Linked DNA regions of Homo sapiens. The protein of the gene in region 7 purifies or fractionates together with the protein of the main gene of each other region. This does not show direct contact. Each region holds a gene or a part of one and is shown on either strand. Other genes may lie near its edges. The genes, in order: TKFC, PRP4K, DDX42, GNA12, ARHGEF28, GALM and AKAP13.

Evidence for each region.
Region 1: the proteins of AKAP13 (region 7) and TKFC purify together in Homo sapiens (affinity purification with mass spectrometry; one large-scale study listed by BioGRID and IntAct). This does not show direct contact.
Region 2: the proteins of AKAP13 (region 7) and PRP4K purify together in Homo sapiens (affinity purification with mass spectrometry, with the first as the bait; one large-scale study listed by BioGRID). This does not show direct contact.
Region 3: the proteins of AKAP13 (region 7) and DDX42 purify together in Homo sapiens (affinity purification with mass spectrometry, with the first as the bait; one large-scale study listed by BioGRID). This does not show direct contact.
Region 4: the proteins of AKAP13 (region 7) and GNA12 purify together in Homo sapiens (affinity purification with western blotting, with the first as the bait; one study listed by BioGRID). This does not show direct contact.
Region 5: the proteins of AKAP13 (region 7) and ARHGEF28 purify together in Homo sapiens (co-immunoprecipitation; one large-scale study listed by IntAct). This does not show direct contact.
Region 6: the proteins of AKAP13 (region 7) and GALM purify together in Homo sapiens (affinity purification with mass spectrometry; one large-scale study listed by BioGRID and IntAct). This does not show direct contact.

Annotation. Positions count from the first base shown.
Region 1 is NC_000011.10:61,339,258-61,343,530, reverse strand, and holds part of TKFC (triokinase/FMN cyclase), read right to left. Parts: coding exon 4,096-4,273; intron 2,096-4,095; coding exon 2,017-2,095; intron 1,709-2,016; coding exon 1,619-1,708; intron 1,071-1,618; coding exon 1,036-1,070; intron 958-1,035; coding exon 873-957; intron 777-872; coding exon 687-776; intron 190-686; coding exon 73-189; intron 1-72.
Region 2 is NC_000006.12:4,030,839-4,035,111, reverse strand, and holds part of PRP4K (serine/threonine-protein kinase PRP4 homolog), read right to left. Parts: intron 3,554-4,273; coding exon 2,357-3,553; intron 1-2,356. UniProt on the Homo sapiens protein: Serine/threonine kinase involved in spliceosomal assembly as well as mitosis and signaling regulation. Connects chromatin mediated regulation of transcription and pre-mRNA splicing.
Region 3 is NC_000017.11:63,776,583-63,780,855, reverse strand, and holds part of DDX42 (ATP-dependent RNA helicase DDX42), read right to left. Parts: intron 1-4,273. UniProt on the Homo sapiens protein: ATP-dependent RNA helicase that binds to partially double-stranded RNAs (dsRNAs) in order to unwind RNA secondary structures. Unwinding is promoted in the presence of single-strand binding proteins.
Region 4 is NC_000007.14:2,795,194-2,799,466, reverse strand, and holds part of GNA12 (guanine nucleotide-binding protein subunit alpha-12), read left to right. Parts: intron 1-4,273. UniProt on the Homo sapiens protein: Guanine nucleotide-binding proteins (G proteins) are involved as modulators or transducers in various transmembrane signaling systems. Activates effector molecule RhoA by binding and activating RhoGEFs (ARHGEF12/LARG).
Region 5 is NC_000005.10:73,936,818-73,940,237, reverse strand, and holds part of ARHGEF28 (rho guanine nucleotide exchange factor 28), read right to left. Parts: intron 1-3,420. UniProt on the Homo sapiens protein: Functions as a RHOA-specific guanine nucleotide exchange factor regulating signaling pathways downstream of integrins and growth factor receptors. Functions in axonal branching, synapse formation and dendritic morphogenesis.
Region 6 is NC_000002.12:38,675,529-38,679,801, reverse strand, and holds part of GALM (galactose mutarotase), read right to left. Parts: intron 3,891-4,273; coding exon 3,736-3,890; intron 1-3,735. UniProt on the Homo sapiens protein: Mutarotase that catalyzes the interconversion of beta-D-galactose and alpha-D-galactose during galactose metabolism.
Region 7 is NC_000015.10:85,572,183-85,576,455, reverse strand, and holds part of AKAP13 (A-kinase anchor protein 13), read right to left. Parts: intron 1,326-4,273; coding exon 1,127-1,325; intron 1-1,126. UniProt on the Homo sapiens protein: Scaffold protein that plays an important role in assembling signaling complexes downstream of several types of G protein-coupled receptors.

The DNA.
Region 1 (4,273 bases), on a different chromosome or scaffold from region 7:
TCTCCAAGTCTCCCTGGCTCCTTCCAGTTACAAGGAGCCCTGGCTTGGGTGACCCCAGGTTCCAAGTCTCACCTATCAGTTTCAGGAGAGGCTCATCCACCAGCAGGAGGGTGAGAGAAATGCCAGGCATCTCCAGTGCTGACATGAAGGTGCCCACCAGGGCACGGGCAATCTTCACCCCGCGGCCCTCTGCAATACCAGAGTGTGGCAGTCCAAAAGGGAAAAATGGGCATCAGGGAAAGAAAACAACAGAAAAGCAAGGACCTTGGAAGCTGGGGCTCTGAGGTCGGGAGGGAGATGTCCTGATTTCCTCCTGGCAGGCATCCCTCAATAACCCCACAAATGACCACGTTCCCTGGAGGTGTCCCCTACGTCGGGGAAGATGAGTAATTACAGGTCTCATTTACTCAGTTCGTGCCAGGTGCTGGGCGCTGTGTTGAGTGTCTTACATATGTTTAATCTCACTTAATCCTCAAAACAACGGTATAAAGCAGGTACCATTATTATTACCCCCAATTTGCAGACAAGAAAACAAACAGAGGCTCAAGGTATCCGGCAATTAGGTGGCAGAGAGACGATTTAACTCAGGCTTATCTGACGCACAGTCCGTGTTCTCTGCCATCACAAGACCCTCCCTCAGCCCTTTCCAAAGGGCTGTAGGATCCCCTTCCCAGTGCATGGCTCACCCAGGGAGCGGACGGTAGCGTCGGCTATGATGCCCAGTTCCAGGAATGACAGGCCACCCAGGTTGTTGACCATCATCACAACTGAGGAGCCTGCGGGTAGACATGACACCCCAGGTGAGACCCTCTGGGCGTCTCCTCCCCAGAGGTTTAGGAGGGGTTGGGAGACGCGGGCGAGAGGCTACCCACCGGGCTGCACAGGCACATGGGACGCGTTGGTGGTGTTTGTCATGTGGTCGAGCATGAGTTTCACAATCTCATCGGCGGTTGCCATCTGTCAGAGGGAGCCAGGAATGAGCTGCATCTGGGGGGCCTTGGCCTTAGGGCGGCCTGTGCCAGAGGGACCACCTACCTTTATCCGGCGCACACCAGCTTCCCCGTGGATCCCTGCGGATAGATGTGGTCACTGCTGACCCACTCAAGGCCTGGGGATTTGCTCATCGTTTTTATCAAGGACTCACACAGTGCTGGACTCACACAGTAAGTGGGCGGGAGTGGGGGATGGAAATGGACAGAATAATGAAAAACACGATCTCTGTTCTCTGGGAGCTTGTGGCCTGGTGGTGGAGATAGCTTTAACTAGAGATAGTTAAGGAGGAAGCACAGGCGAGGAAAGAAAGCTTTGCAGCCAGGTGATCTTTGAACAGCCGTTGAAAGAAGGGTGTATTCTGGCAGGGACAGGAGGACCTGGGAATGGCAGGCAAAGGCTAGGAGGTGGGCAGTGCACAGAGCTCCACATGGCCAAAGCTGTGGGTATAGACAGCAAAGCAGGTAGAAATCAGGCAGGTTGGCCCAGGCTGGGCCTCAAATGACCAGGTAAAAATACTAAGACCACCTGGGGAGAGGACCAGGTTGATGGCTCTAAGGGTATGCAAGGTGGGCAAAGTCCAGGGCCAAGGAGCAGGCAGGGCTGGGATGGATGGCCACAAGCTTACCCAGGCCCAGCTCCACCTCGTCGGCTGAGAGCTCGAAGGTGGGTTTGGAACCAGGGACGCTGCAGGAGGATAAGCTCACCCCCAGGGTACCTATGAGAAACAAGGCATGAAGGGATGACTGTTCCACTCTTAGCACTGGGCATCAGGAAGGGTGGCAGCAGCATCTCAGAGGCCCTGCCCACAGGTACCCTCTTCTCTGAGAAAGGCTGCCAGACTCTCCACCTCAGCCATGGTACCCAAGGCCACCAGTCCCCAGGAGCTCCCCCAGGGATACACTCCCTAGACCCCTGGGGAATAACCTGGGGAGCACCGCTAGGCAGCCAACAGGAACCTGCTCCTCGCCCCAGGGCTGTCCAACCTTCCCCACTCTCTTCCCCAGCTCCCAGGCCAGCACTCACCCATGGCCTTGGCGACCACGTTCACCTGCTTTGCGATCTCCTCCAGCCCCACACCAGCCTCAGCCAGAGCACCTGCCACCTGCAGCCACAAAGAGGTAAAAGCCCCAGGGGGGAGGGTATCACTGTACCATGTGGGGTAGAAGACAGGCAGGGGATGAATTTCTTGTTGGGAAGGGGGAACCTCAGGATTTTCACACTCAACCTGGCCCATCACATTTAGGGCAGAAGAGCAAACTCCCCTCATTCACAGTGTACCTGCCAGGAATCTTCAAGAATTCCAGTCTGTTGGAGTCAGAAGAGACTTTACAAATGGGGAAATGGACCCAGAGAGGGGCGGTGACTTGTCCAATGTCACACAGCCAGTGGGTGGCCAGTTTCCCAACTCTAGAGTTCCAGAGTTCTCTCTCCCATAGCCTTGCTATTTTGGGTCACTTTACCCATCTATCCATCCATCCATCCACCCAATTTTTACCAAGCATCTAGTATATGCTGAAAAGGAAAAAAGGCGACTAAGTCACAGTCTCCACCTTCAAGAACTCACAGCCTGGGGAGAGGCTAGGGAAGCAGATACCCATAAATTGAAAATTTATGTGAGGTGGTAATTACAGTGATGGAGTCCACACTAGGACTGGCTGCCAACCAGCTCAGGGTAGTGGGGAGATGGAGATCAGGGAGAGCCTTCCAGGTGGGGAGACATCAGAGCTGGGCCTCTGTAGAATGGTAGGAGTTAGCCAGGCCAAAAGGAGGCTGGACAAGGAAAGAATTTTCCAGGCCACAGATACTGCATAAGCAAAGCCAGAGATGATCCATAGCCTGGCAGGTACAGGAGCTGGCGTGAAGAGACCATAAGAGGAAGGCAGGGGCCGGGCGCGGTGGCTCACGCCTGTAATCCCAGCACTTTGGGAGGCCGAGGCGGGTGGATCATGAGGTCAGGAGATCGAGACCATCCTGGCTAACAAGGTGAAACCCCGTCTCTACTAAAAATACAAAAAATTAGCCGGGCGCGGTGGCGGGCGCCTGTAGTCCCAGCTACTCGGGAGGCTGAGGCAGGAGAATGGCGTGAACCCGGGAAGCGGAGCTTGCAGTGAGCCGAGATTGCGCCACTGCAGTCCGCAGTCCGGCCTGGGCGACAGAGCGAGACTCCGTCTCAAAAAAAAAAAAAAAAAAAAAAAAAAAAAAAAAAAAAAAGAGGAAGGCAGGGATGGCTGGGCGCGGTGGCTCACGCTCGTCATCCCAGCACTTTGGGAGGCCGAGGCGGGCAGATCACTTGAGGTCAGGAGTTCGAGGCCAGCCTGGCCAACATGGTGAAACCACATCTCTACTAAAAATACAAAAATTAGCCGGGCGTGGTGGCAGGCGCCTTGTAATCCCAGCTACTCGGGAGGCTGAGGAAGGAGAATCACTTAAACCTGGGCAGCGGAGACTGCAGTGAGCCAAGATCGCGCCACTGCATTCCAGCCTGGGCAACAGAGTGAGACTCTGCCTCAAAAAATAAATAAATAAATAAAAAATAAATAAAAGAAAATAAAAAAAAGAGGAAGGCAGGGATGATGGGAGATGAAGGTGGGGAGTCAGGGAGCTATGGTGAGGGCTTGTATTGATTGTAGGCACCCAAGAAGGCTTTCAGTGGATGAATAACCTAGTCAGATACACATTTTAAAAAGACACCTCTGGCAGTAGTGTGGAGAATGGATGAGCAAGGCCAGAAGGCAGGAAGCAGGCAGGGGAGCCCAGTGAGGAGGTGGCTGCAGCCATCAGGCATGAGTAGATGACCCCTGAACCAAGGCAAAGCAGGAGGGCGGGGTCTGAGAAGGATGTGTGTTGTACATTTGGGAGGAGAAGCACCAGGACCGGGCAACTGATTGGGTGTGGAGAAGAAAAGGGGACGAGTCTGGGAAAATGCCTGTATCTGGGCTTAGGTAGCTGAGGGGATGGCGGGGCCTTCTGAGATCAGGGAACACTGGAGAAAAAGAACTAGCTTCTTGGGGAAGGGCTGGAAAGGTCCAGTTACTGGGTGCTGCCAGGCAAGGGAAGGCTGGAAAGGGCTGGCCAGTCTCCACGTCCCCGGTGGAAGCCCACCTTGTGTATAAGCACCGTGCCGCACAGCCCCCGCCGGCCTGCCTTCTTCAGGACAGTGAAGGCGCTGTCGTCCCCAATCACCACCATCTCCACCGGGATGCCTTCAGCCCGGGCCTGCTCCCGGGCCAGGCCGAAGTTGAGCCGATCCCCAGTGTAGTTCTTCACGATAAGGAGCGTC
Region 2 (4,273 bases), on a different chromosome or scaffold from region 7:
AAAAACAACACACATATATGTGTATATATATGTATATATAAATGGATGGGATAAAGTAAACTAGTATAAAAAGAACAGAGTGTTGTCTGCTAAAATGCAATGAAAATAAACAGTGGCTCAGGCCTGTAATCCCAACACTTTGGGAGGCCGAGGTGGGCGGATCACGAGGTCAGAAGTTCAAGACCAGCCTGGCCAACATGGTGAAACCCTGTCTCTACTAAAAATACAAAAATTAGCTGGGCATGGTGGTGCGTGTCTGTAATCCCAGCTACTTGGGAGGCTGAGGCAGGAGAATCGCTTGAACCCAGGAGGCAGAGGTTGCAGTGAGCCGAGACCACGCCACTGCACTCCAGCCTGGCAACAGAGCAAGACCCCATCTCAAAAAATAAAATAAAATAAAATAAATAAATAAAAATAAAGAAAATAAAAATGTTCACCCTCACTAGTCACCTAAGAAATTTCGATTAAAACAATTTTTGGGTTTTTTGTTCTGTTTTTAAGAGTGACAAAATACTATATGGTATCCTGGTAATAAAGGTTTTCCTAAACTTTCCTAATACAGTTTCAGGAAAAGGGGCAGTTCACATAGTCATAGAAGTAGAAGTAGAAATTGACCTAACTTTCCTGGATGGAAATTTAGCAATAACTTTCTACAATGTAAATGTACATACTCTGAGACTTTGCAAGTCCACTTCTATGAGTCTATTCTATAAAGAAACCTCACATATAACCAAGGCACATCTTCGCATATAATAGTGAAAAACTGGAACCAACCTAAATTTTTCATCAGTTTCAATAGGAGAATGATACTATAATACATCTACACTGAAATACCAGTTGCTGTCAGGCAGAATGAAAAACAATCTATATGTTTTGTCGCAGAAATGTTTCCTGAAAAAAGCAAGCCACATGTGAATATGAATAATATGACTCCAGTTTTGTTAAAAAAAAAAATTCCCTTATATTCATGTTATTGTCTGTACAAGGAAAGACCTAAGATAAAGTAAATTTCTAAGGAGTGGTAGTGGAGAAATGAAAAGGGAGACAATTTACAGGCTTATTTGGATTTCTCTTTAATAAGTAAGTATGCATCACTTCTGTAATTTAAAAAAATATTTTTGTTTCAAATACTCAGCTCTAGTCCTTAATAAACTCCTCAGAATTTGCTCTTCAAACAAAGCAAACTGAAAGACCACCAAGATAATTAAGAAGCACTTGAGATAACAGAATCAGTAAAACTAATCACTGCCTCAATCCAGGAAGCCAAAGGAAAAAGGGGCTATTTCATTACAGTGCCACTCAGAAGTAAAGAATCAAGACGCTCTTAAGACACAGCACTTGGAAATAAAATTTGAAATTTCTCTGAAAATATGATGACTTCACTTTCAGGGTGAGTTTATATTTATACCCATTCACAGAAAATATTATTATGAACACAGTAAACGGCTAGGAATTAATAACATCCTTATATAGTATAAGCCAATACTCTTTTAATAAGCAAAACCTAGCTGGCAATTTCATAATACTTAAATACTAAATACAAAAAAGACATTAAGAAATCTGTTTCTAAAGTAGTTTAAGTGGTATAAACACTCCTCCCCGCAAATACTTCCGTTCTATGATCCTACGTAAATTATATACATTCTCTGATTCTATTTCATTTATAAATTAGGTATGAGAGCCCCTTCACCTCATGAGTTAAGATAATCACATGAGGATTTATAAGAACTAAGACAATATATTATTCAAATAGTACAAAATAATTTCATATACTATTCTTCTTAAGCTTAAGAGATACTACTTTTCAACAATGAGATTATATGTATTAATACAAAATTTTCCATTTTAATTATACTTTGGGGACCAAAAAATATTGGTATTGGTTTCTATTTATACTGTTAAAATTTAAAACTCATGCAAATACAAGAGAATGAACAGAACACAATTGTTAAACTGATTACCTTTCCCCCTTTTCAAAGTTAAGAGTTTCAGCCTACACTGTTCATGAAGTAATAATCCTCTCTCTAAACGCCCCCAATGAAGATTTATCAGCCAAATTACATGGATTGAAAGGAGTGCCTTAGCAAACTAGGTATTAAATCAAGAATGTGAAAAAACCCAATTCTATCATCAAGCTCAGTATTTGTTAAACACCTATACTTAAAATACTCATCGAAAAAAGTGCAAATATTAACATGGTTAATGGATTGGGTTACTTAAAATTATGAAACTCATTACTACTTCATTTATTTTTATTTTTACTTACTACTTCATTTTTAATGGTCCACAAGTTCTAGTTTTCCGTTTAAAATCTCATGCACTGGTAAAAAGCTTTAACATTTTGTACACAAGTTACCTTGGAGAAGAAAGTCGTCTCCTCTCTGGTTCTCGTCGTTTTCTTTCTAAGGATCGGCTCTTGGCTCTTCTCCCAGGAGACAGTGTCCGCGAGGGGGATTTGCTCTGCTTAGATCTTCTATCATTCAAAAGTGGAGACCTGCTTCTTCTTGATTTATCACGTGGTTTTGGAGACAAACTTCTTCTTTTAGGACTACGACCAGGTCTTCTGCTGGGTGACCTATTTTCTTTCCCAGATGAAGCATCTTTAGAGGGAGATTTAATTGGCTTCTTTTCTTTATCAGTTTCAGACCGTTTTGATTTTCTCTCTTTGGACCGTGACCTTCTGTCTTTGGATTTACCTCTTAAATCAACTGGGGATCTGGATTTTTTACCTCGATCGCGACTTCTACTTTCATTTATAATTGGGGATTTTTTCCTATCTTTTGATTTACTTTTATCTTCAATTTTAACCTTATCATCAGTAGGAGATCTGGCCTTACCAATTTTCTCTTGAGATCGCCTTCTAAGGGTAGGGGATTTTGATTTCCTTGCTTGATCTTGAGACTTACTTCTTTTGGATGGGCTTTTAGATTTTTTCCTCTCCTTTGACTTGCTCCTAGTTGTTTTCTCTTTAACGATTTCAATACCCCCCTTACTTTTCTTTTTATCAGACCTATGTCTAGTCCGTTCTTTGGATCTGCTTTTACTTCGTTTCTTTGTAGTAATTTTATTGTCCACAAGTTCAAGTTTCCCCTTTGTACTTGAAGATCTAGTACTAGACCTATTTCCATTTCTTGCCTTTTCATGAATTTCCCCCTCTTCTTCAGAGCCAGACTCATAACCTTGCAAAATGAGCCCCATACCAGACTGGACCTTTCCTTCCATTAACTCATTATCAAGTTCGGCCTTAATCAAGGCTCTCTGTTTTTCCAAGTCTTCTAGCAAAGCTAAATCATCAAGTTTAGTTCTTTTTGCTGGAGACATACCCTCTTTATCAGAAGCATCAATAATCTCTTTTCTTTTGTGTTTCTTATGTTTATGCTTATGTTTATGTTTTTTATCCTTGTCTTCTTCTGAGGAATGTTTATGTTTCTTATGTTTACTTCTGTGTTTATGCTTCTTTTTTTTGTGACGACTGTGCTTATTTTGAGACTGGTCTTCTGATACTTCTCCATTTTCTTCATTTATACTCTTTTCAGAATTAGCATCTTCCATCCTATAAATATATCAAACACATTTTAAAATCATATCATTTATCAAGTATTCAAAGAGCCATAAGAAAATAACAGTAATGAGAAAATACATCTCAATGTAATACATGAAGTCAGTCACTAAAATTTTTTCAGAACAGCTTCAGACATTTTATTTCAAAGAAGGTCTACGGCAAGAACTGAGTTGGATAGTGATACAACTTTATTGTGTTTCTAATGGTTGAACTCACCAAAAGTATTAGAGGAAATCCCTAATGGAGTGAGCTTAAAAAGTACAGGTTAGAGAAAAAGGGAAAAGCAAACCAGGCACAGCAAAACCTCATTAACATTGATTTAGTACAAGAAGCCACTCAGTAACTTAATTTTTAAACCAACATTTCTCACACATTAACAACCAAAGGGCCCGTTTTCTTTTTTAATAAGACCTACTAACTATTAACATACACTGGAAGACTAATCTCCTTCTCCACTTGAAATTCATGAAACTTGGTGTCTCTACAGTAAACCCAGCAGGTCACTTGTTTTGAGCAGATTTCATCTTATACCTTAAAAACAAAGCAAAACAAAACAAAACTCTAGAGCCAATACTGAGCTATACCCAAAATAAGCACTCAATCAATGTGCATTGGTAGCTGATACTGATGATGGTGATAGTATAAACACATCCTCACAAGTTGAATCTTCAAAGTGAACTAAACCGGAAGTTAGGACTCTAGGCTTGTAGT
Region 3 (4,273 bases), on a different chromosome or scaffold from region 7:
AAAGCTAGAGGGAAGGAGTGAAAAGAACAAACATGACTATGAATCAGCCCTATTAAATAATCAAAAGGTTCATATTACAAAAGCAGCAAATCAACTCCTGCCACAAACAGGCAGGCAGTGAGACCTTGGGCAGGTGAGGGTTGCTTACTGGCTCTCAAGACTTAGCAAGTTGGAAAAGCGATCCTTTCCCTAGCTCATCTAGAACACACAGCTCATTGTCCCTCAATTACTGACTCTAGGAAGGCCAAGGAACTGTGCTTTCTATATACCCTGAGTAGAATGTTAGCTCTATGAGGGCATAGACTTGACTCAATTTGTCCAGCACTATATCCTTGGTGTCTGCATAGTACTCAAAAAATTTTGCTGTATGAATAAATGTAATGTATTCAGGCTCTCCAAAATTCATCCCAGTATTTATGAAAACTCTATTTTATTACTACAAACCTTGTTATCTAGCTAACCACCCTTCCTGATTAAATCTAAGCCAGATCATCCTCAATGGATCATTACTTAAGTCTCTTGACAACAGTTTTTCCTACTTTTTTTTTTTTTTGTTTTTTTGAGACAGTTTCGCTCTTGTTGCCCAGGCTGGAGTGCAATGGCGCAATCTCAGCTCACCACAACCTCCGCCTCCCAGGTTGAAGTGATTCTCCTGCCTCAGCCTCCCAAGTAGCTGGAATTACAGGCATGTGCCACCACGCCTGGCTAATTTTGTATTTTTAGGAGAGATGGGGTTTCTCCATGTTGGTCAGGCTGGTCTCAAACTCCCGACCGCCGGTGATCTGCCTGCCTTGGCCTCCCAAAGTGCTGGGATTACAGGCGTGAGCCACCGTGCCCGGCAGTTTTTCCTACTATTAAACCATGTAGTGTATATGGTTACTGAACCTTGACAATCACAGAGATTTGTGGGAGTATAGCTGACAGAAGAAGCAAAAGATAGCCACCCAAATTTCTATTTGGTTACTAAAAAAATAAAAGAGGCAGATGCAGTGGCTTACGCCTATATTCCCAGTACTCTGGGAAGCAGGAGGATGGCTTGAGGCCAGGAGTTTGAGACCAGCCTGGGCAACACAGCGAGACCCCATCTCTACAAAGAAAACAAAAAGAAAAAAAAAAGAGATACCTAGAATAGTCAAACTCAGAGACACAGAGTAGAAGAGTGGTTGCCAGGGGCTGCGAGGAGGGGAGAATAGGGTGTTATTGTTTAATGGGTACAGAATTTCAGTTTTACAAGATGAAAAGTGTCCTGTGGCTAGATTGTGGTGATAGTACCAAAAGAAGAAAACAAAATGAGGTGGGCACAGTGGCTCACAACTGCAGTCCCAGCACTTTGGGAAGCCAAGGCAGGAGGATGGCTCGAGCTCAGGAGTTAGAGGTCAGCCTGGACAACAATGAAAGACCTGATTTCTACAAAAAATACAAAAATTACCCAGGTGTGGTGGTGTGCACCTGTAGCCCCAGCTACTCGGGAGGTTGAGGTGGGAGGATGGCCTGAACCCAGGAGTCGGAGGTTGCAGTGGGCCGAGATCATGCCAATGCACTCCAGCCTGGGTGACAGAGTGAGACTGCGTCTCAAAAAAACAAAACCAAAACAAACAAAAAAAACACACTTGGGGAAATTCAACTGCATTTTTGTATTTTTTCTCTTAAAAAAGATTTCTTCATTTCCTGCTGGGGTGCCAAAAAATAAAAATTTAAAAAAGAACCCTTTTGAAATACCTAATTTGAAAAGAATTAGCTGAATAGAGCCATAAACAAAGTTTAATGAGTATTTGTTTAAAAAAGAACAACCCTAAGTGGTTCTTAGTAATAACATCCATTGTTTTATACTGACCAATAACCACTGATGATTTTGTTATGTGCCCAGTACTATGAGGGACATCCCTCACGTATACCCGCCTTTCCATCTCCACCTCCACTATTGCAATTATTTCCTAAAAAAAAATTTCTGATTATTGGGAGGCCGAGGTGGACGGATCACAAGGTCAGGAGATCAAGACCATCCTGGCCAACATGGTGAAACCCCATCTCTACTAAAAATACAAAAATTAGCCAGGCGTGATGGCGCGCACCCATAGTTCCAGCTACTTAGGAGGCTGAGGCAGGAGAATCTCTTGAACCCAGGACACGGAGGCTGCAGTGAGCCGAGATCGTGCCACTGCACTCCAGCCTGGATAACAGAGCGAGATGCTGTCTTAAAAAAAAAAAAAACTTTATTATCAAGCTCTCACAGCACTACTAGAGTGATCACTAAGTCAAAATATACTGAGTGCCTATTTTGTGCCAGTAACTGCTCTAAGGTGCTAAGGATACAGTAATGGAATCAGATGCAGCCATACTCAGAGTTCACAGTCTGGCCCAGGAGAAAGAAAAACTAAATCATGTAATTCCAGGTAGCAAAAGTGCTATGAAAAGCAAGCAAGAGGGTAAGAGGCAAGCTATTGCAGACTTAAGTCAGGCAAGGCCTCTCTGAGATGAATGACATTTGACAGGTAATCCTCCCCTGACTACTGTCCCAAGAATGTCTGTTTTATTGGAAAAGTAATGTGGATGTACATCCAGATGCTTCATCTAAAACCAGCAAATCTTCCATAGTCTATGAGAAGTGATTCTGTTTAGTAAAGCATAAAATGATGAAGTAATAGTGAGACACACAGTGAAAAGAGAAAAGCAAGTTTTACCTCCTTTGGTAGAGTAGCATAGTGTGTGTTAATACCGTGGAACCAGAAAAAGTCTCACAGAAGGGAGGTCAGTATTCAGATGCTTATCGAAAACCCTTTCCAGGTTCTTCCAGAACACACATTTCTGATTATGTCACTCTCCTCAATTCCATAGCTCTCCACAGTTAATCATGCTGGAATGAGACCCTCCATTGTGGCATCAAACTACTTTACCATTCATATTTCCCAGGGTCTCTCCACACGTACTCAGTTTTCCAGGAAAACAAGCACTCTAGTGAATCCTCTTCCCTCTAACTGGATCCCCTTCACATCAAATCTCTTTCCTATAAACTGTGAGTACCTACCAAAGTCCTATCCTTCAAAGCATATCTCAAATACCAACTCCTAAAGACATGAATATGATATCCCCAAAGAAATGGCATCTCCTGGCTGGGCACGGTGGCTCACGCCTGTAATCTCAGCACTTTGGGAGGCCGAGACGGGTGGATCACGAAGTCAGGAGATCGAGACAATCCTGGCTAACATGCTGAAACCCCATCTCTATTAAAGATACAAAAAAATTAGCCAGGCGTGGTGGTGGGCACCTGTAGTCCCAGCTACTCCGGAGGCTGAGGCAGGAGAATCACTTGAACCCGGGAGACGGAGCTTGCAGTGAGCCAAGATCGCGCCACTGCACTCCAGCCTGGGCGACAGAGTGAGACTCCGTCTCAAAAAAAAAAAAAAAGAAAGAAAAAGAAATGGCATCTCCTTCCTCAAACTCCCTTTCCAGTCCAACTCCGTATTATAGGATTCATGGCTGAAGAAACAGGCTTATTCACTTTTCTCTTATAGCATGTTTTCAATATTAGATACTCATTTATTCAATATGTAAAAGACTAAAGGAGATCTACAACTAGGCTGAAGAGAAACAGTCAAGATGGCATCAAGTCCTATTTGGTATGGTTCTAGGCACTAAATCCTATGGCTGGCTGGGCAAGGTGGCTCACACCTGTAATCCTCGCCCTTTGGGAGGCCAAGGTGGGAGGATCACTTAAGGCCACGAGTTTGAGACCAGCCTGGGCAACACAATAAAACCCTGTCTTTACAAAAAAATTTAAAAAATTAGCCAGGCATGGTGGCACACGCCTGTAGTCCTAGCTGCTCAGGAGGCTGAGGCAAGAGGATTGCTTGAACCCAGGAGTTCCAGGTTACAATGAGCTGACTGGACCACTGCACTCCAACCTGGGCAACACAGCAAGACAGTCTCTAAAAAATAAATAAAACACGGTGGTTTCCTAGGAAATCTTAACAGAATAGTAAAGTAGCACAGGCTATGTGTAAACTATCTTTGCTACTAACTTGATATGAACCTCAGGGAAGTTATTTAGCTTCTCTGGGTTCAGTTTCCTCATCTATAAAAAATGGTAAGAGGCTGTGTGTGGTGGCTCACGCCTGTAATCCCAGCACTCTGGGAGGCTGAGGCAGGCGGATTACTTGAGCTCAGGAGTTCAAGACCAGCCTGGGCAACACAGCCAGACACCATCTCAAAAAAAAAAAAAAAAGATGAGACTATCACCTATCTCAAGAGTTGGCGTGAAAAATTAAGTTCATAC
Region 4 (4,273 bases), on a different chromosome or scaffold from region 7:
GGAACTATCAGCGTGTGCCACCATGCCTGCCTAATTTGTTTGATATTTTTGTAGAGACGAGGTCTCACTATGTTGCCCAGGCTGGTCTCGAACTTCTGGCCCCAAGTGATCCTCTCCCCTCAGCCTCACAAAGTGTTGGGATTACAGGCGTGAGCTACTGTGCCTGGCCTAACTGTTGAGTTTTGAATGTCCTTGTATATTCTAAATGAGTCCTTTGTCAGATATGGCAGATGTGTGGTTGGCAAATATTTTCTCCCAGTTCATAGCTTCTTTTCAGCCTCTTAAGAGGGTCTTTGGCGGAGCAAAATATTTTCGTTTTCATCAAGTTCAATTTATTGATAATTTTTCTCGTGTGAATCATGTATTTGGAGTCACATCTAAGAACTTTGAGCACACCCTACATCCTGAAGATATTCTCCTATGTTATATATAGTTCTACATTTTGATTTGATTTTGTATAAGCTGTGAGGTTTAGGTCAAGGTTCTTCCCCACCCCCTCCCCCGCTCCCCCCAATTTTCTTTACCTGTGGAAGTCCACTTCCTCCAACAGCGTTTGTTGAAAAGACCAGGCTTCCTCTTTTTAATTGCTTTTGCACTTTTACAAAAATTACCTAGCTGTATCAGGGGCTATCCCTGGGTTCTCTGTTATGTTCCATTGATCTGTGGGTCTGTCACCTCACCAATACCACACAGTCTTGATTATCATAGCTATATAATAAGTCTTAAAATCAGATAGACTGATTGTTCCCACTTTTCTTTTTCAAAGTTGCTTTAGCTAATTTAATGCTTTTTCATATAAATTTTCAAATAATCATATTTATATCTACAAAAGATCCTGCTGGGATTTTATGGAAATTGTGCTAAACCTGTTTATTAATTTAAGGATATTGGTACCGTGTTGAATCTTCTAATTCGTGACCGTGGTATATCTATTAGATTTTGAAAATTTCTTTCCTCAACATTTTGCAGTTTTCAGCACATAAGTCCTACACATATTTTGTTAGATTTATACCTGTTTCGTTTTTTTAGTGATAGTTAGTAGTAGTACATCTTTCATTTCACTTTCCACATGTTCATTGCTAGTATATAGAAAGACAATTGAATTTCGTGTGTTGACATTATATCCTGCAACTATTCTGGATTCATTTGTTTATTCTAGGAGTTTTTTTGGTAGATTACTTTGGGATTTTCAACATAGATCATCTTTTTATCTGCAAATGGGTTTAGTTGTGTGTTTTCTTTTTTTGTGTGTCTAATCTATTTGTTTTCCCCCCTGCTTTTCCTGAGCTGTGTGATCTTTTATTTCATTTTCCTACCTTGTCGCACTGGCTAGAACTTCCAGAACCATGTTGAATAGCAGTAGCAGAAGTAGGCATCTTTGTCTTTTCCTAGTGTTGGAGGGAAAGCATTCAGTCTTTCACATTAATTATGAGGTTAGCTGTATGTTTTTTTGTCAGTGTTCTTTATCAAGTTGAAGCATTTCTCTGTTCCTAGTTTGCAAAGGTTTTTTAAAATCATGAGTGGGTGGTAAGTATTTTTTTTATCCATACATTTGTCTTTCTAGCCAGACTCTGAGTTTCTGGGGGTCAGATACTGCTTCTTAAAGTTTGTTTCCCCCACAAACAAACACACTGAACAAATGTTTGTGGATTGGTAGAACTAGGCATGGTCTCCAACGGCAGACAGACAAGGTCCTGAGGGGAAAATCAGGGAGCATCTCTAACCAGACCGTCCTGGTCAGCTGGGTCTGGAGGAGACTTTCAACTACTCTTTGGTCATCATTACGTCTGACTCAGTGGTTCAAGGCAGAAGTGGAAGTTATAGGCACCAAATTGATGCTGCAGGAGAGAGATGAAGGAGGCAGAATGGATTCATCTGCTCTGCCCTGGGTGTCAGAAATGAAGATTTTTAGGATAAGTGCCAACTAAAAATCATTAAGTTGTACACTTCAAATTGATGAGTTATATGGTACATGGATTATAGCACAGTAAAACTGTTATTTAAAAAGGAAAAAAAAAAAAAGGCCGGATGCAGTGGCTCACACCTGTAATTCCTAGTGCTTTGGAAGGCTAAGGCCAGAGGATCAGTTGAGCTCAGGAGTTTGAGACTAGCCTGGGCAATATAGTGAGACCCTGACTCTACGAAAATCTTAAAATTAGCCGGGCGTAACGAGGCATGCCTGTGGTCCCAGCTCCTTGAGAGGCTACGGGCAAGGATCACTTGAGCCCAGAAGGTCGAGATTGCAGTGAGCCATGTTCATGCCACTGCACTCCAGCCTGGGTGACAGAGCAAGACCCAGTCTCCAAAAAAGGAACATAGATAAGTGCCTAGTGAGCAGGTGACCCTGGTTTTCTCTGTCCTGGAGGATGGGATGCTGCTCTCAGCTGGCCTGAGTCCCTCAGATTGCTCTGAGATGAGAAGGCTTTTCCAGATGGACAGATGTGTACTTGATAGCCTTCTCAGGGCCCTTGACCACTCTGTATACCCCCAGTGTAGACCATACCAGAGAGTATGCAGTGTGCCCCTCAGAAGAACACAGAAGTTCTCATAAACACTGCCTTGCTGATTTCGAAACATTAGTCTAAGGATGGTGGAACAGACCTCCTAACTGCTCAGGGGGTGCTGTTTTTGCTGAGAGAATATTTTCCAAAGGCTGGCTGCATTCCCTAATACTATGTTAGTTATTTCTTCATCCCTTTGACCCTGTTGATGAGGTAAGAAGGGGCAGAACAACATTAACTTTATCTTTAACAATGAGGAAACAAGCAAAAGAATGAAAAGTAGTTTCTCATCACAAACGATGGTGACGTTAAATCTAGAACATGATCCCCTGGCTCCCGTTTTGGTGGGCGGGCTACTTGGCTTGTCGTATTTTAGTCTTTTCCTGTCTCATGACTGCTGACTGCCTGGATTTGTATGTTTTCCCACCCGTTTTAAGCTGGAAGAAGCAGTTGTATCTTTTGGAATAGAGGAGCTGCCAGATTTCAGTGATGATGACAATAGTAGCGCTGGTAGTACTCTTGGCAGTACAGTCATCTCCCGTTATCCACAGCCAGCCGCCAACGGAAAATAGGCGCGGACGGTGATACCACATTTGAGAGACAGAAGGAGAGACCATATTTACTTAACTTTCATGACAGTATATTGTTATAATTGTTGTATTTTATTATTAGCTATTATTAATCTCTTACTGTGCCTAATTCATAAATTAAATTAAACTTTAAAAACAATACAGGTAGGGCTTGGTACCGTTCAGACATCCACTGAGGGTCTTGGAACTTATGCCACGGATAAGGGGTGGAGGCTACTATAGTTGTTGTTAAAACATTGTTTTTTTGGCGGGGAGGCTGAGGCGGGCGGATCAGCTGAGGTCAGGAGTTCGAGACCAGGCTGGACAACATGGTGGAACCCCCCTCTCTACTAAAAATACAAAAATTAGCAGTCCGTGGTGGTCTGTAATCTCAGCTAAAAATAAAAAATTAGCCGGGCCTGGTGGCAGGTACCTGTAATCCTAGCTACTTAGGAGGCTGAGGCAGGAGAATTGCTTGAACCTGGGAGGCGGAGGTTGCAGTGAGCCGAGATCACTCCATTGCACTCCAGGCCAGGGCAAAAAGAGTGAAACTCCATCTAAGAAAAAAAAAAAAAAAAAAGTTGTTTTTTTACTGATACACTTCATTTTCCAGTGAAATTTTCTGAAATTGTTGCCACCTCCTCCCCGCCCAGTTGTCTTTTTTCCAGTAGCTTTGCAAATGAATGATAGCAGAAAGCAGACTTCTTTCTGTGGTGCTTATGTACATCTGTTTTCTTTTTTTTCTTTTTTCTTTTCTTTTTTTTTTTTTGAAACAGGGTCTTGCTCTGTTGCCCAGCCTAGAATATAGTGCAGCAATCATAGATAACCGTAGCCTTGACCTCCTGGGCTCAAGCAATCCTCCCCGCTCAGCTGAGACTACAGGTGTGCCACCACCAAGCCCAGCTGTTTTTAATTTGATTTAATTTTTTGTAGAAGCAGGGTCTTGCTCTGTTGCCCAGGCCGGTCTCAGACTCCTGTGTTCCAGCAGTCCTCCCTCTTTGGCCTCCCAAAGGGGAGGCTCACAGTGTGAGCCACTGCTCTCGGCCATGTGCGTCTGTCTTGGTGAGGTTATACTGCTGAGAGTTAAGACTTTCCACATCACAACAAACAAACCAAGAGACAGACTCAGGCTGCACAGCTCAGAGCTTGTGAGTTTTCTGCGTTATGACAATGGATGCCCATTTTGAGCTTCTCTAGCGTGGT
Region 5 (3,420 bases), on a different chromosome or scaffold from region 7:
TGGTTACCTAGCAACAGCAGGACACTGTGTATTCTCCCTTTTTCTGATAAAATCCTCTAATATTATATTTTCAAGGAGAGACAAAAGGGAGGCTTGATTTGAAGAAAGACACTTGCTGCAAACCATTTTCCCTGCACTTGTTCCACTGACCACTCACCCTCAGGCTCAGCCATATGGCAAAATTACAAATAACCAGCTTGTGTTAGAACAAAAACCTGAGTAGGAATGGAAGTCCAGGTGGGAAAGGAGGGCAAATAGCTCTGAGGCCCACCTGCTTATTTTTCAGTCATTAAGAAGAGGCCACATACACCTACTACAAACTTATAAAAATTAAAATTAAAAAAAAATTTAAAGAACATAAAGAAAAAAAAGAGGCCATTGTAACCCTCGCCACATTTTCTTCAAAGCCTCTATTATTTAGATGGATATACACACGTGCAGACATTCCAATGACACAAATGCTTGTGGCCTTTGCCCTCCTGACAAGGATCTTTGGTTGCTAGAGAAGGCAGTAAGCAAGGCTTGGCAGGAATGAAAGGAAAACTCTTCCCAGAAGGCTCCATCTTTGGGGACATGGTGGCCTTGCCACACCTCATTTCATCCCATCTTCCAGTAGGAGGTGGGTCAATGGAGGAGGAGCAGCCAGGGCCACAGGAGCCGATGAAGGTCCCTGGAGGAGCTGCACCAAGGCTGGACTGTGCCTCTGAAGCAAAGGAGGACCCTCAAGGCAGGGGAGGGGAGGAAGAGAGGTAGGGAGGCATGGGGGTGAGGCTGCAACCACAGCTCTGCTCAAAGGCTTAGCCCATCCCTGACCCTTTAGATGCCAATAGGCACAAAGCTTGATTCTACTGCCCCTGATCCTAAATGCTGTACCTCAAATTCCAGGAACTCACTAACAACTGAAAGCATACCTGCAGAAGGTGCCTCTAACTGCCACCATTTACAGAGCACAGGAGTTGTCCCAGGTCTTTTACATTCGTCATCTCTCTCTAAGTCTCAAAATGCTAAAACCCACAATTTACAGGCTGGGAAACCGAGGCTCAGGCTAGTGAAATTCTGACCCACATCATGCAGCTAGGAAGTGATCTGGATCTACGCTCAGAGGATGGCAGCCACGTGATGACTCCTTGCTCTAATGATCAAGACTCTCGTGCTTCTCATTTCTCTTTGTGCTGAAAATGGCTTGGCCATCTTTTCTGAATTAAGAGATCCTCAATGTTTAATACTTTCCCTCCCTTACATACTACATTTTGAAGAGTCACTTGCCAAAAAAAAGAAGAAAGCAAAGGCAAAAAAAAAAAAAAAAGACATATTAATGTTAAGCTTCTCAAAACTGACACAGCAATTGTTATAGAACTAGGAACCTCCCTTAATCGGGCGAACAAAAATATTCCCAGGCAATGATTTCCTTGTCAGGGCAACATTACAAATCAACCTGGAATGCTCTGAATCCTATTTTACCACACTGGGAGACAAAGCATGCCTGTGGTCACAACACGCAGTCACACTTCCAATTCCTTTTCCCAGCCATAGACTGAAGCTATTTCACCTCTAAATACAAATATGCACAGCTAAATTGCTGATGTTTAATTTTATACAACTTCAAAAAAATGCCCCCAAATTTCCATCGAGCAGACACTGGCAGACTGAACAGGTCACCAAAGCCACAACAGTCCTGCCTCCTTACCAACAGAAGGGCCAGCCAGAGCACAAAAATTACTACATTGAGGATGAAAAATCATCCAGTGAATGAGGCAGCTGGGAGGTCATTGCTGACACATCTGACAATGCCGGACACACTGGAAGCCCTTAATCTATGTAGGTTTTCTTCATCTGGGGTGTGAAACATGGAGCAAAAAATTCAAAATAGTGATATTTTGAGGTACATGGAAAATCCCCTTAATGGCTTCAAGAGAAGACTTGTTCAAAACAGCCAAATTGAATATATATCAGAAATAACTCTTTTTTAAGTTACATTGTATGCTCTACTTCAAGAAGATACAGAACCAAGAATGAACGGGGATGGGGATGGGGAGTTGTGTGTGTGTGTGTGTGTGTGTGTGTGTGTGTGTGTGTGGTGTAGTGTAGAAGTTTAATCAGAACTTTTTCAAATAAGAATAAAAATACAGGAGAAACACATTCCTAGGTGAGAGCTTGTTGTGCCCTAAGGTGAACAGCCCATGTTGTAATTCCAGATGTATTACTGGAGGTGGTTGTGGTTGTATGTCACCTGGACGGGAACTCAATTTCCTTCTCCATGTTCCTTCTTGGTTTCTACCTGAACTATGTAGGCAAGGTCAGACAGTCTGTCTTTGAAATTAGAAACCGTTTGGTGATTTCTGATTTTGTTACTCCATTTCAACTCTGAAAGAACCAGCACAGCAATTGTATATTTCTCAAGGCCAGCCACCTTTTTCCACACTTTTTACCCTAGAGAATATGATCATCATATAGAACCCTAAACTGAAAAAACATTTGTTAATATTAAACCTCACTGACTCAGAAAGCAGAATTCTTGCTATATAAAAGTAATCACCCAGTTTCATTTGTGATCGAATTGCCTGTAAATCGATGGACATAAAAATGTAATAACATATTTCTAATAAGCAAGGAAATAGCAATACAATCATAATTTGGTCAACTAAAAACGAATATTATTATAATGAAACAAAACTCAAACTACAAAAAAACATTTCAGCCAAGTATCTCAACACAATTTTGCCTCTTGACATAAAAGAAATAATTTGATCCCTAACATTATCTCTGGAAACTAAACAGAGCGAGCATTATTAACCTTTAGAGCAAATAAGCTAAAACACATAAAAGCCCCAAAGCCTGACTAAACCAAGTAGAAAAGTGGGATCTTGATTGAGAGTTTTTTCTGCTACATTACTGAGCTTTTGTTCACAAACTAAAATTTCAGCCTCTGCAGGAAACTTCGATACTCACATTATGAGGACCACCGTGGGGGGTCTAAGTTAGTCTCCTAACATGGTTTCAAAAAATTACAGGTATCCACATTTTGGCTGGCACCATTCCTTTTCTTTGTGGGCATGTGGGACAGGAAATAGACTGTCAAGAGACACACCTGCAGACAGCACTGATATCCAGAGAAAGTTTCCTAAATCTCCCAATATTTAGCCCTTAGGTGCAACCTGCTGGTTGGAACTTGCATTTATCATTTTTCACACTTTTCTCTGTTTACCCAATACTGACATTTCTAACAGTGAAGAGAAATCAGCCTTCCCTCCATTGGCTCACCATTATCATCATTCTTTTGAGCCAACTGACTAGTTGGCTATTTTCAAGACCAGACTATCATCTCAGTGCATAAAATGCAACTATGTGTCATATTTAAAATGAACAAAGTGGCTGGGCATGGTAGTTCACGCCTGTAATCTCAGCACTTTGCGGAGCCAA
Region 6 (4,273 bases), on a different chromosome or scaffold from region 7:
CCTCATTGAATAATGAAAGAATGGAGGCTCAGTGAGGATAAACCGCTTGCCCCAGGCCACACAGCTAGTGTGTGGCATTGGACTGGATCCTGAGACTGTTCCCTTACTCTATACTATCAGGGGATGAGTTGGCCAGAGATTCCCAGTGCCTTTAGAGAGCTCTGGGATCACTAAAGAAGGGGCCTGTTGCAGGCATGAGACCTCCAACTTGTTGAGTGCTCAATAGTCAATGACCTGGTGCTTTACATAAATCATCTTGCAAGGTAAAGATTTGGTTGCCCAAATGAAATGACCATCATTGTAGGTCAAAACAGTTGAACACTGGCAATTTCATGTGGCTTCAACAAATATTATTTACCTCCATTTTACAGATGAGCAAATTGAGTTCAGTGGAGTTAACTTATACCCACATCTACCTTCTACATTCCTAGTGTGTGTCGGGGGCGGTGGGGAGTTTCATACTACCTGTCCATTGTTTAGAAGGAAAAAAAAATCTTGTTTAAAGTCACACATGTGGCCGGGTGCAGTGGCTCACACTTGTAATCACAGCACTTTGGGAGGCCAAGGCGGGCAGATCACTTGAGGTCAAGAGTTCGAGACAAGCCTGGCCAACATGGTGAAACTTCGTCTCTACTAAAAATACAAAAATTAGCCACGTATGGTGGCTCATGCCTGTAATCCCAGCTACTCGGGAGGTTGAGGCAGGAGAACCACTTGAACCTGGGAAGTGGAGGTTGTAGTGAGCCAAGATTGCGCCACTGCACTCCAGCCTGGGCAACAGAGTGAGACTCCGTGTCAAAAAATAAATAAATAAATAAAGTTATACATGTTATTTGTGACAGAGCTGGGGTTCAAACTCAGGACTGGCTGTCTCCTCTATTCCACATCTTAGTCTCAGTGAAGTTTTTGTCTGAATCTTCCTTTTCAACAGAAGAGTTGAGGCCAAACTCTATGGACTTGAAAGATAATAGCCTCTGTGGGCCACAGGAGTGGTCTCTGAGCCCAGGATCTGTCCACTTTGCTCTCACAGACGTGGCATTTGCCAGGAAGGAGAACCCAGCAGGAACGGAGGTCTCTGCCTTCACCTACAGTGAAGGCAGCTGGTATGTGAAATACTTTCACTGAGCTTAGTGAAAAATTCATTTTACACCCTAGTTAGCTCCCAGAAAGGTTGAACTTTCAAGACACTCAAAATATGAAGCCTGTTATATGTGTAATTAAAAAAGAAATAGAATATCCCAAATGGAACATTTCAGGAATTAAATAATTGAAATGAAATCTTAACTTGCTACCTAGTTTTTCTTTTGTAGAGAAAGGACACAATGGAAAGATTTTTGTGTAAACCAATATGATTGGTTAAGCATAATTCCTATTTATGGAAGGATTTCCCTGAGCCTGTAGTTTCCAAATTTCCAGAAACTCTGCAGCTCTAGATCTTCTTATACCATTTCAAATCCTATTCAACTGTCATCTTAAAAAAAAATGTGTTGGTGGCCGGGTGCGATGGATCATGCCTGTAATCCCAGCACTTTGGGAGGCCGAGGTGGGTGAATCACCTGAGGTCGGGAGTTTGAGACCAGCCTGACCAACAAACCCTGTCTCTACTAAAAATACAAAATTAGCCAGGCATGGTGGCGAATGCCTGTAATCCCAGCTACTTGGGAGGCTGAGGCAGGAGAATTGCTTGAACCCAGGAGGTGGAGGTTGTGGTGAGCTGAGATGGCGCCATTGCACTCCAGCCTGGAAAATGAAAGCAAAACTCTGCCTCAAAAAAAAAAAAAAAAGAGTTCAAAGTCTTTCCCCACCCCTCTCAGGGCCACTGTGCAGTCATTCTCTCCCATATCCATGTATTGAATGAAATGCTATTGGCTCTTCAAGGCCAGTTCCAATCCTATCTCCTAGGCTGCTATTTCATTTGTTCACACATGTTCCTGTCTTCTCTGGCTTGTTATGGTGCTTGTGGCCATTCGCCTTTAACAGTTATCATGTAAGAGTCCATCTCCCTCTTTATACTGTGAGCCTCAGGAGTCCTTGGCCTACTGTGCCCCCTGCTTCACAGAAGGGGCTCAAGGGCACACTGCACTGAAGGCTAGGTACACTCACGATTTTGCTGTGTTCTTGAAGGGAATATAAGTTAAGCAACACCACGGAAAATGCCACAGTGAACAGGGGGAGCAGGGGCAAGCTAGAACGAGGTGCTGTCCTAAGGCTCCTCTGAAGATCCCTGTCTGAAGCCAGGCTGGGCCTTACTTTCTCTGGTTGGGGTTTGCTCATGATCCTGGCATGTTCTAGAGACTCTGCCCTAATACTGGCAGAGCACATGCTGCCCTCTGCCTCCCTGGCATGAAGAATCCCATCACTGAGGAAAGGGAAACCCATGGGGCAGTCAGTCTAGTTCCAGGCCACCAGCAGGAAGCTCATGGAGGCGGGGAAGCCTCCTTCTGCAGGACAAGTGGTGGTTAGAGGCAGAAGAGAAGAAACTGTGGCCATTAGTGGCCATACATGTTCCTGTCTTCTCTGGCTCTTCTCTGGCTCTTCTCTAGCAAATAACCTGGGTGGTATAATTTAAAAGAAAGTTAACTACTGAAATTTACTCCTGCACAGCCTGAAATTAGACTAGTAAGAGAGCAATCACTGGGGTTAACCCATAGACTCCCATGGGGCTAGGAAGCAGGAGGCCAAGCACTCCCACCCCAGGGAGAAGCTGTTCGATCAATTTGCTTTCCTGACCTTGTTTTCTAGGGATCTGCTTAAAGAATGGTCGTTTTCATGTGGAGAGGAGGAACTGGGGAGAATCTGATATGATTTTGAGGCATGAGGCACTTCAGTGGAAGGGCAGGCCTTGGTGCAGCGCCATGCTGCATGGGGCGGGGGGCTTAATGACAGGTACAGGGAAGCATGTTGGACGGGGGCACCCATGCAGCCTGGGTGGACACCAGCAGCTATGGTGTAAGAATGAGTGTTTTGGGCCAGGCAGCCCTGGTTGTCCCACTTAGGAGTCATGTGGCCCTTTATTTATTATTTATTTTTTATTTTTTTGAGACGGACTCTGGCTCTGTTGCCCAGGCTGGAGTGCAGTGGCGTGATCTCAGCTCACTGTAACTTCCACCTCCCACATTCAAGCGATTCTCTTGCCTCAGCCTCCAGAGTAGCTGGGATTACAGGTGGCCGCCACCACACCCAGCTAAGTTTTGTATTTTTCGTAGAGACGGGGTTTTACCATGTTGGCCAGGCTGGTCTTAAACTCCTGACCTCAGGTGACCTGCCCACCTCGGCCTCCCAGAGTGCTGGGATTACAGGCGTGAGCCACTGTGCCTGGCCATGTGGCCTTTCAGTGCCTCGGTTTTCCCATTTAGTGATAACACAGAGTTTTAGTAAGAGTAAGAGATAATATATGTCAATGTCTTGTCCAATAAGTGGAAGATACTGTTATCAATCCACATCTCTTCAACCCGACTCCCTGATCTCAACACTGTGAGAAAGTTGTTTCTCATTTTTCCTAAGTCAAAGGTTGACATCCTTTCTCTTGGGGCTCCCCTGTCTGTTCCAACAGATGAACTAGAGAAGGATGGGTCCTAGCACATGCCCATTGCACCTGCTGCCCTGAACCATGGAAGGGGCCTCTTTCCTGCATCTCACCACTCATGTGCTCTAGGGCCTATGACTGTGCCTGGCAAGCAGAAGGTATGCGTAAAGTGAGCCTAAAGGGAACTCAGTCACATGTGCCGTACTTACTTTATCAAACCCTCTGACTCCTCCATGCAGACTGTTGGGTTCCTTGTTAATGGCCAGGTGATACTCCTTCCCATCCACCTTGAAGGTTCCTTTGGCGATTCGGTTGGCCACCCTCCCAATAACTGCTCCAAAGTATGGCTGCTTTTGGAGGTATCCTGCAAGGACAAGGGATGACAGCACTTTTAAAACTTCAATTCAGGCTGGGCACGGTGGCTCACACCTGTAATCCCAGCACTATGGGAGGCCGAGGCAGGCGGATCACAAGGTCAGGAGATCGAGACCATCCTGGCTAACACGGTGAAACCCTGTCTCTACTAAAAATACAAAAAAATTAGCTGGGCGTGGTGGCCGGCGCCTGTAGTCCCAGCTACTCGGGAGGCTGAGGCAGGAGAATGGCATGAACCTGGGAGGTGGAGCTTGCAGTGAGCCGAGACCGCGCCACTGCATTCCAGCCTGGGCGACAGAGCGAGACTCCATCACACACACACACACACACACACACACACACACACACACACACACAAAAAAAAAAAAAAAA
Region 7 (4,273 bases):
TTTATGTCTGGCAACAACTTTATCTTGAAGACTTGAGTGGATTATAAAATCTTTTCTGTTTTTTTTAGCTATCTTTGTACCATACAACTATTGATTTAAATATAGTAACACTATATTTAAATGGTACATATCATCGCCACTAAAATAGTTGTAAAAATACTCCTGATTAAATTTGGTTCTTGTTCTTTGGCAACAATCTCAGAAACTGTTGGTTCTTTCATTTTGTAAAGTTAAGCCAAACACAGACAAATATCCTTTTATGCCAGAAATTTAGTTCTAGTTGTTGCATATTTCTGTACCTGAAATGTGTGTCTTCCATTATTCCCAAAACCAATGAAAAAAACCTCTCAGTCCCCCTACGGCTACAACCTTAATGCTAGCTCTGATCTGTAAGTGGTAACATTTAATACTGCTAATACTGCTTTACAGGTCTCAGAATCTTTGGGGAAAGTCCTTCTTTTTCTGTTTTTGAGACAAGGTCTTGCTCTGTCACCCCGGCAGGAGTGCAGTGGTGTCATCTCAGCTCACTGCAACCTCTGCCTCCCAGGCTCACATGATCTGCCTGCCTCAGACCCCCAAGTAGCTGGGACTATAGGCGTACGCCACCATGCCCAGCTAACTTCTGTAGAGCCAGAGTTTCTCCATGTTGCCCAGGCTGGTCTCAAACTCCTGAGCTCAAGTGATCCACCTGTGTTGGCCCTTCCAAAGTGCTGGGATTACAGGCATGAGCCACTGTGCCTGGCCAGGAAAGTTTTTTTTTTTTTGAGACGGAGTCTCGCTCTGTTGCCCAGGCTAGAGTGCAATGGCGTGATCTCGGCTCACTGCAAGCTCCGCCTCCTGGGTTCACGCCATTCTCCTGCCTCAGCCTTCCGAGTAGCTGGGACTACAGGCGCCCGCCACCAGGCCGGCCAATTTTTTGTATTTTTAGTAGAGACAGGGTTTCACCGTGTTAGCCAGGATGGTCTCCATCTCCTGACCTCGTGATCCGCCCGTCTCAGCCTCCCACCAGGAAAGCATTTTTATGTTCTAATTATATCAAGGTTCATTGGAGGAGGGCGGGGACACACACATACAAAACACACACATACACATGCATATACTTAAAAATAAAAGCTTTCTGACTTACCATTAGTTGCTGTTGGATGTTCATAAGTTTAAAAATTGGTCCAGTGCAACCGTCTCCAGGAAATGGGTGTTCATGATGTGAATCAGACTCAGAGGTTAATGTATAGATGTCCAACTCTCGATGATGCCTCACAGAACAGTCTCCATACGGTATTTCATAGGATAAACTGCTCCAGGAGTCTGGTTCTCCAGCATTCTCCCTACATGCAAGCATCTCTGGTTAATATATATACATTCTGCCTCCCAGGCATAGGCTTAACGTTCTAAGTCTTACTTCGTATTTCTAACCTGATTGTTCTTTGAGGTTCAACAGCAAAAATTAGTATATATACCTCCCAAATGATTCAGGCATATAACCAATAGCTCCATCCTCCTCACAAGAGATCACAAATGGGTTAAATGAAAACTGCAGGACTCCTAGCCCTAACAATGTTCTTTAGATCAAGATAAAGAGATATGTGGGATCTAATAATAGTTAATATTATGCTAACAACCAAGTAATGAGGAAGTGCAAGGAAGATGGTTTTAGCCTGATTTTCAACAAAATCAAGGCTTATTAAGAGGTGCTCTTAAAATAAATTAGACCATATGCTAACTACAGTCAATTATAATGGCAAGAGAAGAACCACTCACTCCAACCCTTACAAGGGCACTCCAACTTTTCTAACAATAGGTGCAGAAAACACCCTCAAGATTATTGAAGTCAATTACACAAAGAAAAACTGTTACAATGACATATTGTTCAACACTTGTCAATATAATTATCATATCCTATTTGGAATAAAGCACTTGGTTCCAAGAACTTAAAGTTAAAATTCGTAAAATTTAAAAAACAAGCAAGTTTGCTCAACTCATATCATTATAAACAAATATAACAACTTTCCACCATTATACGCCAACTGATTTGAACAAGGCAAGTGGGTTTCTCCTCTAAAGGCTACAGCACCTCCAATTCCACCCTTGCATCCAGAAGGCATACCCATGCCCGTAATGCCTGCTGTGATACCACACATAATCTGCACTGTGCTTTTTTGCAGCAGATGAAAGAATCTTGGGGCATACAATAAACAGGGATGAGGCACACAATCATACCCCACACAATCTCATATTATTAACTATTGTACTTGAGCACGCATTTCAAGTGTTAAGCACCCTCTTCTACATTCAGCACAAATGTAAATGTCTGAAGTCCTAACCGTTGGTGTCACTATTCTTTCTCATTAGTTTGATACACAGTGTGGTATACAGAGTTAGAGATTTCTGGGTACAAAATTTTATCTCCTAACTATATGATGCTAGACAAATTTCTTAACTTTTCTGAGCCTTAATTTCATAATATGCAAACACAGATATTATAATCTAAGCACTGTTTTGAGAATTAGAGAAAATGTGCATAAAAAACTACATCTATGGTGTTTGACACAGAGAAATCACACACGGATACTGCCTATTCTTCCTCCTTCTACTCTTTCATTCATTTAAAAATAATTCCTAGTAAGCCTTCCCTTCTTAAAAGTAGAAAAACATATCTACTTTTTTCTATTTTTCTACTTGTATCAGAAAATCCTACTTTCTCTGAAAGCTTTAAACATAATGAAAACACTCCTCAAACAGCATTCTGATAAGGTGCCTAGCAGCTCAAAGATCAGGCACAATAATAGATTATGCTTTCCATCAACCCTTTCCTCCTTATATGAAATGTTATTTTTCCTTTCCTTACAACATTAACACCTTTGAATATCCCATATCATATCATATTTATTTATTTATTTATTTATTTATTTTTGAGACAGAGTCCCGCTCTGTCGCCAAGGCTGGAGTGCGGTGGTGCGATCTTGGCTCAATGCAACCTCTAACTCCCAGGTTCATCGATTCTCCTGCCTCAGCCTCCTGAGTAGCTGTGATTACAGGCGCGTCCCACCACGCCCAGCTAATTTTTTTGTATTTTTAGTAGAGACAGGGGTTTTGCCACATTGGCCAGGCTGATCTCGAACTCCTGACCTCAGGTGATCCACCCACCTTGGCCTCCCAACCTATATCACAGTTATTATAATCCCACCAAAGCAAACAATAGATTGGTAAAGTATCCCTGAGATTTTGGGAGGAAGGTTATATTTGAGATCATTATCATGTTTTGAAATAGAAGAAACTAAAGAGTTAAGAAATTACAGACATGCTATCTAGCCACTGAAAAATATGAGAAAGATTACTTCAACTGTCTCTCCAGTTTTTTCTACTAAGTCACACCTGTCTGTCATTAACAATTCACCTGAGACTAATTGGAATTTTAAAGCTAAAAATATGCTACAGTAGCAGCCATAAAAAAGGATGAGTTCATGTCCTTTGTAGAGAAATGGATGAAGCTAGAAACCATCGTTCTCAGCAAACTAACACAGGAACAGAAAACCAAACACCACATGTTTTCACTCATAAGTGGGAGTTGAACAATAAGAACACATGGACACAGGAAGGGGAACATCACACACCGGGGTCGGTCAGGTGGTTGGGGGCTAGGGGAGGGAGAGCATTAGCAGAAATACCTAACGTAGATGATGGGTTGATGGGTGCAGCAAACCTCCACGGCACGTGTATACCTATGTAATAAACCTGCACGTTCTACACATGCATCCCAGAACTTACAGTGTAATAATAAAAAAAAAATTTTTTTTTTAATGCTACAGTGGAAAACGTATAAGGCAATGGAAAATCATGTACTGGCTGACGGTAATAATAATAAAGTGTACTCCAAAAACTACTATTACAACTTCCATACCCAAGAGTGGCTCCCCAAAAGCAGCTTAAAATAAGAATGGCATATGCTATACTACATGTTTTACATATTTTACTAAGTTGCTATACTCTGAGTGAAATGACCTCAAACAGAAAAGCACTTGTAAAATACTCTCGACAGTTCAAAGAAACGACTCAAGAAGTCAAATAGCGGGGAGACAACTTCTCTATCAATGTAGCTTTCAAGCCTACATTGACATAGTCACTAACATGCCTTATTGTGTGGCAGACATTAGTGGCATATCTGCTTAATCAGATTATCACATACAGCCATATTCCAACAAAAAAGATCTCTGAAAACAAAACCTGCTTTATATACCACCACTGAGCATGACCCAAATATAACAAGATTAGAGGA